Linked DNA regions of Homo sapiens. The protein of the gene in region 2 purifies or fractionates together with the protein of the main gene of each other region. This does not show direct contact. Each region holds a gene or a part of one and is shown on either strand. Other genes may lie near its edges.

The links.
Region 1: the proteins of CAPN6 (region 2) and CEP162 purify together in Homo sapiens (affinity purification with mass spectrometry; 2 studies listed by BioGRID and IntAct, with this or other methods). This does not show direct contact.

Annotation. Positions count from the first base shown.
Region 1 is NC_000006.12:84,123,423-84,126,645, forward strand, and holds the end of CEP162 (centrosomal protein of 162 kDa), read right to left. Parts: exon of another isoform or gene 3,200-3,223; intron 3,091-3,199; coding exon 2,956-3,090; intron 1,855-2,955; coding exon 1,648-1,854; 3' UTR 828-1,647; downstream 1-827. UniProt on the Homo sapiens protein: Required to promote assembly of the transition zone in primary cilia. Acts by specifically recognizing and binding the axonemal microtubule.
Region 2 is NC_000023.11:111,246,483-111,250,311, forward strand, and holds part of CAPN6 (calpain-6), read right to left. Parts: intron 2,576-3,829; coding exon 2,453-2,575; intron 2,290-2,452; coding exon 2,087-2,289; intron 1,511-2,086; coding exon 1,389-1,510; intron 1,023-1,388; coding exon 886-1,022; intron 278-885; coding exon 95-277; 3' UTR 1-94. UniProt on the Homo sapiens protein: Microtubule-stabilizing protein that may be involved in the regulation of microtubule dynamics and cytoskeletal organization. May act as a regulator of RAC1 activity through interaction with ARHGEF2 to control lamellipodial formation and cell mobility.

The DNA.
Region 1 (3,223 bases), on a different chromosome or scaffold from region 2:
CATACTTACAACTAACTGATCTCTGACAAAGTCAACAAAAATATACACTGGGGAAAGGACACCCTACTCAATAAATGGTGCTGGGAAAACTGATTTGCCTTATACAGAAGAAATAAACTAGACCCTTACCTCTCATCATATACAAAAATTAATGCAAGATGGATTAAAGACCTAAATGTAAGACTTAAAAGTATTAAAATGCTAGAAGAAAACCTAGGAAAAACTCTTCAGAATGTTGGCCTCAGCAAAAAATTCACAATGAAGACCCTAAAAGCAAATGCAACAAAACCAAAAATAGATAAATGGAACTGAATTAAAATTAAAGGCTTCTGCACAGCAAAATAATCAACTAAATAAACAGATAACCTACATAATGGAAAATATATGCAAGTTATTTCTCTGAGATAGGACTAATATTCATCAGGTACAAGGAACTAAAACAATAAGAAAAACCCCAAACAATCCCGTTACAAACTGGGAGAAAAACATGAACAGACATTTGTCAACAGAAATACAACTGACCAACAAACACGTGAAAAAGTGGTCAACGTCACTAATCATTACAGAAGTACAAAAACCACACTGAGATACCATCTTATACCAGTCACAATGGTTATTATTAAAAAGTTGTCAAACAACAGATGATGGTGTCAATGTGTAGAAAAGGGAACATGAATACTCTCTTGGTGGGAATGTAAATTAATTCAGCCTCTATGGAAAGCAGTATAGAGATTTCTCAAAGAACTAAAAATAGAACTACCATTCAACCCAGCAATCTCATTACTGGGAATCTACCCAAAGGAACAGAAATCATTATATAAAAAAGATATCTGTACATGTATGTTTATTGCAGCAATATTTACAATAGCAAATTCATGGAACCAACCTAAGTATCTACCAACAATTGACTGGATAAAGAAAACGTGAGATATATATAGAGAGAGATATATAAATGGAGTATTATGCAACTATAAAAAAGAATGAAATCATGTCATTTGCAGCAACATGGATAGAGCTGGAGGCCATTATCCTATGTGAACTAAATCAGACATAAAAAATAAAATATTGCATATATTCTCACTTAAAAGTAGGAGCTAAACAATGGGTACACAGAGACATAAAGATGGAGATAACAGACACTGGGGACTCCAATAGGGGAAAGAGTGTGAGCGGCAGTAAGCGTTGAAAAATTACCTGTTGGGTACAGTGTTTAATATTTGGATGATGGGTACACTAGAAGCCCAATTCCCACCATTATTCAATACACCCATGTTACAACAAGCACATGTACCCCCTGGATCTAAAATAAAAATTTTAAAAACCTCACATTATCAATAAAAATGTGGCGGAGTATGTTCAATTTTCTTTTCTTTCTATTTCTAGCATACAAGTGAGCCCTTCTCTGCTATAAAGGAAACTGTCCATAAATCACTTAAAATGAGACTGGTTAATGATTTTTAGTAAAATACACCATTATATGTTTTTTTTCTTATTGGTTAAAGGCAATTTATTTTGAAATGTTGCTTTGGTTGTTTGCTTTCTGGAAACATATTGGAACACTTGTTTTTCATAAGCTGTCCTGACAGTGGCACAATCCCATCCATCTTCAGGCCTTTTAATAAGGTCATTATGAAATCTGAATTTCTATTAATACTCTGGTGCATTCATTTCATCTGCAAAAGCAACTGGCACAACCACTCCTTGCCGGTGCAGCTCTCGGAGAACATCTAATATTGAGTCTAGTTCTGTGCGGAACTTCTCCAGCTCACGATTCTTTAACTGTGCCAGTCTTTTCCATTTTTCAACTTCTTTGTTTTGCTCAGTTTCTACTACTTGGTGTGTTTGCTGTATTATCTGCAAATACAAAAATTCCACATTGCTGTTATAGTTCATAGTGGTGGGTGAGGAACATTTAACAATCTTAAAGTAGGCAAACCTGGGGTTTCTTTGGGGAACTCAGGTAAATCATAATGCTCTGCGTGGATGCAACATTTTCTGTCTTCAAGGAGTATATACATCCCAACTGTGTTAGGGACTAAATGTTTGTGTCCCCCTCAAATTCATATGTTGAATTTCCTAACCCTTAATGTGACTGTATGTGGAGTAAGGAAATAATGAATGTTAAATGAGATCATAAGGGTGGGGACTTGATTTGATAAGAACCAGTGTTTCCACCACTAGAGACACCGAAGAGATCATCACCAGAAGAGACACCAAAGTGATCTCTCGCCCCTCTTCCTCTCCTCTGCACACATGGTACTGAGGAAAGATCATGTTAGAATGAGAAAAAAGGTGGCTATCTGCAAGCTGGAAAGAGAGCCCTCACCAGAAACCTAACTGACCAAAACCTCAATCTGGGACTTCTGGCCTACAGAACTGTGAGAAGATAAATTTTTCCTGTTTAGCCACCCAATTTATGATATTTTGTTATGTCAGCCCAAGCAGACTAATACACTGTTCAAACCAAGTTAAATTTCAGCACCAAGGCAAGTGCCTAAAAACACATCATGCCCTTACATCTGCTATTTTTAACTTCTATTAATTTATCTGTTTATAATTAAGTATAGTAATATTACTAGTGCTAGCTATATATTTTAAATAATCATATTAAAACAATTTATTTCTTATAAACATTTGCTGAAATGACTTGAATATGGAACACCATGCCTTGTTCCCAGGGTAAGATGTGTAAGTTTTTAGGAATCCATCAATAATTAAGAACATGATACAAGTTTTTGCTTTTTTTCCAGATATAAGGATACCAATCTTCAAGCACTTGAGATATAAAGTCTCATTTTCTGGTAAAAGTTATAAATTTATTAAATTTTTAACAAGATCAAAATACACTGGAAACACTTTAAGTGGTAATTTTTGCTAGGGATGACAAAACTATAGCAAATTAAAGGCACTTAAAAGTAAAGACCTATATAAATATGTAAATGTGATTTACTTTACCTGTTGAAGTTCCTGTTCTCTTTGTGCATGTCTCATTTCCATCTGCTTAATTTTCTTTTCTAAGCCCACGAAATGTTTCATCTCTGGTGTATGGTTTTCTTTGGCTTCTCTCAATTCTTCTAAGAGTTTTGTAATCTAAAATTGACATATGAAGCAAATGAAAAACTATAATCACAAGAATTTAACAGGTAATCTTGAAAATCAGAATATTTGTATAAAATTTCTCTATATAAGTAAGAGGCACCTTGGATTGTTAGAGTAATTAATA
Region 2 (3,829 bases):
TCTTTCTAAAGATTGTGAATCTTAACTAAGACCTGGCACCTGACGGAAAATAAAAGGGTGGCACGCTTTGTCAGGATTCTCTGGGATTGCAGATTTAGAGCTCAGTGAGATCATCGCTGGAAATAACCTTGAAGCTGATGTGGCCTTGCTTGACTTTGGCAGTTGGACCACCCTTCTTACGCAGGTACAGAGACTTCAGATCACGGCAGTCGCTGGGGTCAGCATCCAGAGTAACCTGCCCCAAGAACTGATCACAGAATTTTCGGCTGTTCCAGACCTGGAAAGACAAACGAAGGGAGTGAAGATGAGCAGCCCTCAGTGAGATTAGCCTTTGCCCAGTGACATCCAGATCTAATGCTGAGCTTCAAAAGATTTGTTTTAAAACCAAGAGACTATTCTGTCCTTTCCTGATAGCCCATCAGTTGAGGGGAGGATACCTCAAAGAATATACATGAAAAGCCAGAAAACAGAATCTCCGGGTCGTTCTTGACCTGTGGGATGGTTACCTAAAGGCTGCTGGTCAGGAGTATTAAGTCAGAAAAACTGCCAAACTGCAGTGATTCATCCTGACCTAGCCATGTGAGGGTCCTCTGAACTGGCATAAGCTTTCCTCCATGGGATTTTATGATACGTGTGTTAACATGTGTACTGGTGAGCATGTGGGCTTTTGCCCACAATTAAATAAATGGAAGAGAGGAGATTTAGGATGGATGGTAATAAGGAAGTCAGTGTCCATGCTTGATGAGAAGAGTTTTTGAGTATAAAACAAACCAAAAAATACGATAATTCTTGCTCTGCATCCTAAACATATATAAGGTACTTGGGATCATCTAGTATCTGGTACAAAGTATGAGCCTTTCTGGCGACCCCTGTACACACTCTTACCTGTACTATAATAGGAATGTCAGTGGTCCTTCTGTAGAAAATGGCCTGGGTGTCAAAAATGGCATGAACTGTATTCTTCTGGACAGGAGAACGGACTTCCTCCTTTCCACATTTGATGACCAAATATGGGTTTACAGCTGGAACAAAGTGACATATGTTTTTAACACAGCAATTAAAGTTCCTTTTCTAGATAGACAAGAAGGTATCTCGCTAAGCCAATTCTGGGACTTTCAGCATAGCACTCGAGCACCAGAATGACTGAGATTCAACACTTTTATTCCCACTTCCCTTTCCTTTTCCATATTTTATATAGGAATATGAAAATGAATCTAATGTAGGCCTTGCTTGAAGTTGACATCCCATCCTCTGCCATGGTTGCCATCCATTCCCAACTTCTCTAGACAAAATATCGCTGGAGAAAATCATTTGTGATCATGTTTTCTAACTTATGTGCTATAAATGCAACTGAATTTTGCTTTCCCAGACATTCCTGCCATTCTTACTTTCATTGGCATACTTCTTCTCCAGGTCCTCAGCACTGTGAACAGTGATCTGAGTAACTACTTTCGGGTAGCCACGAGCCAGGTTCCAGCAGGACATTTTGGGCATGTCCAGAGTCAGTTCCCTAGAACATCAAAAATAAAATATTGTCATCATATGATAAATATCCTTTGATGAAATAAGCCCGCCAAAGCAGACATCATTGCTGAAAAGCATGAGACATTGTGTGACTTAGCCCATTCCTCCTCAGATATGTCTTATATATATTTTAAGCATGCTTTCCTTTCTCCTTTCTTTAAGGGCCAGGAGATAAAGATCAAAGTAGGCAGGGCTGGGACAAAAAGGTGGCTTTGGTGATCCAGCACACAGAACATAATAGAAGAGCAGGGAGGAGTGCTACCTACTTAAGAAAAGAGGCCATCAGCCAGAAAACAGAAGACAAATTTGATGTGGAAGAACTTAGACTATAGGCCTGTTCCTCTTTAAGGGTAGCTCAGAGCTCTGAAGTTCAGACCTTCACTGGGGAATTTCCCCCAACCACCCTTTGAGAAATATTTTTACCACCATGATTTCAGTGAATCAAGTCTGATTTAAACAAGTTGTCCCATTGAATGTCTGAAGAGGGGAGACGGGTGAAGGGGTTTAGGATTGGAAGTAAAGCAAAGAACAGGGGTTTGAGGGCTTGCGAAGGAAACTGAACCTGAGCTGGACAGGCACTTCAGAGAAGATTCTCAGGAGAAACTCGCTGGTGCGACCATGCTGGAACATGGTTGGGACAAGCACATAGTTGCCCTTCTTCAGGTACTTGCTCAGAAACACTGTGCGGGTGTCAATATAGGTGGAAGTCCCAGCACGCTCCTGGATGTAGAGGTGGTGGAGGCGGAATTTGCGGTTCATCTCCACCTGGAAATGAAATAGGGTAAAATATTCAATTCCACTCAAATCATGGTTTTTGTATGCTCTGTCTTTTTTATCCCTAGGCCTTCCATTCTTCCCCTACCATTAAATTATCCTAATTTTTACTCTGTTTGCCTTCATTCTCTCTGCCCCAAATGCCCATTTTTACCTTGAAGAGCTCAAAGCCAATGATGTAATTGTCAGGTCTTCCCATTCGGCGGTAAGTGCGCAGGTCCTTCTGCTGCAGTGACATAATGACCTTGTGCCCATCCTCAGGCACAGTGAAGATGTACTAAGGGAAAGAGACCACCACAGAGGTGAGTTAGCATTCCCATTTCATATGAACGAGCTTAAATTTCAGGGAATAAAGCTTGTCATTGGGAAGCAGAGCCTTGAGTTATTTTCTGGGCTTTCATATTTATCAGACAACAAGGTCTTGGATAATTCACTGACTTGCTAAGCGTAGACCATTAACACTTGTTTCTTTCTATGTCATTCAGCATGTGTTGAAGGACAACCTTATTCTTAGCCTTTGATGCCAAAGAGGATATGCTTTGTTCTAATAAGTTCTTGGTAAATTATTGTATTATTATTATTATTATTGTTATTATTATCCCTTTGTATTTAAATGCCATATATAGAAAAAGTTTGGAATCCATAAAGACAGAAAGGTATTTATTTGACTCAACCTGACACTACAGCATCACCCTGGGCTAGCCTCCTTTTGCCAGCCAGACATACAGCTTGTGGAAGGGCTCCTTGGAGAATTGATGTTTTGCTACTTCCACTTTAAGGAAGCTACAAGCCTGTGTCAGAGACTTTCCAAACATCATCTGGGGAATCACGGTGCTATTAGGAGATAAAACTAAAAGGCATCAGATTTTTCTCTCTGTCTCTGTCTCCATTCCTCTCTCCCTTTAGAAGGAAACATAAAACAGCTACTCAGGAGGCTAAGGCAGAAGGATCCCTTGAGCCCAGGAATTCAAGGGTGCAGTGAACTGTGATCATGCCACTGCACTCCAGCCTGGGCAACAAAGTGAGACCCCATCTCTAAAATGAAGGAAAGAAGGAAGGAAGGAAGGAAGGAAGGAAGGAGGGAGGGAAGGAAGGAAGGTAGGAAGAAAAGAAGGGAGGGAGGGAGGGAGGGAGGGAGGACTTAAAAACAGACTCTGAACTAAGGCCCCTAAGTTCAATCCTGTACATACATATAGAGTGAAGCCATTTTCCCAGCTTAGTATATGTGCCTAATACTTGAAACATTTCCAGAGTTGTAAATGGAGGTGAGGTGGTGTGTGTGGGGGGAGATAGGATATTTCTTTAGGAACAATTAAGATGGGAAGGGTGGAAGAGCAGTATGAGTTAGGTGAATCAGCCCACTAGTCTCCATATTCTCCTAAATGCCTGACCAATGAGATCCATGAAAAGAAAAGACGCACCCATGGGCAGTGAGGCAGCAATATAGTCAGAATTCTTGTTTTCTATGAGTTAGCTCATCAGCACATTTTGAGATGAAACCATCCAGGTTATTATAGATTCAGCCTTTAGA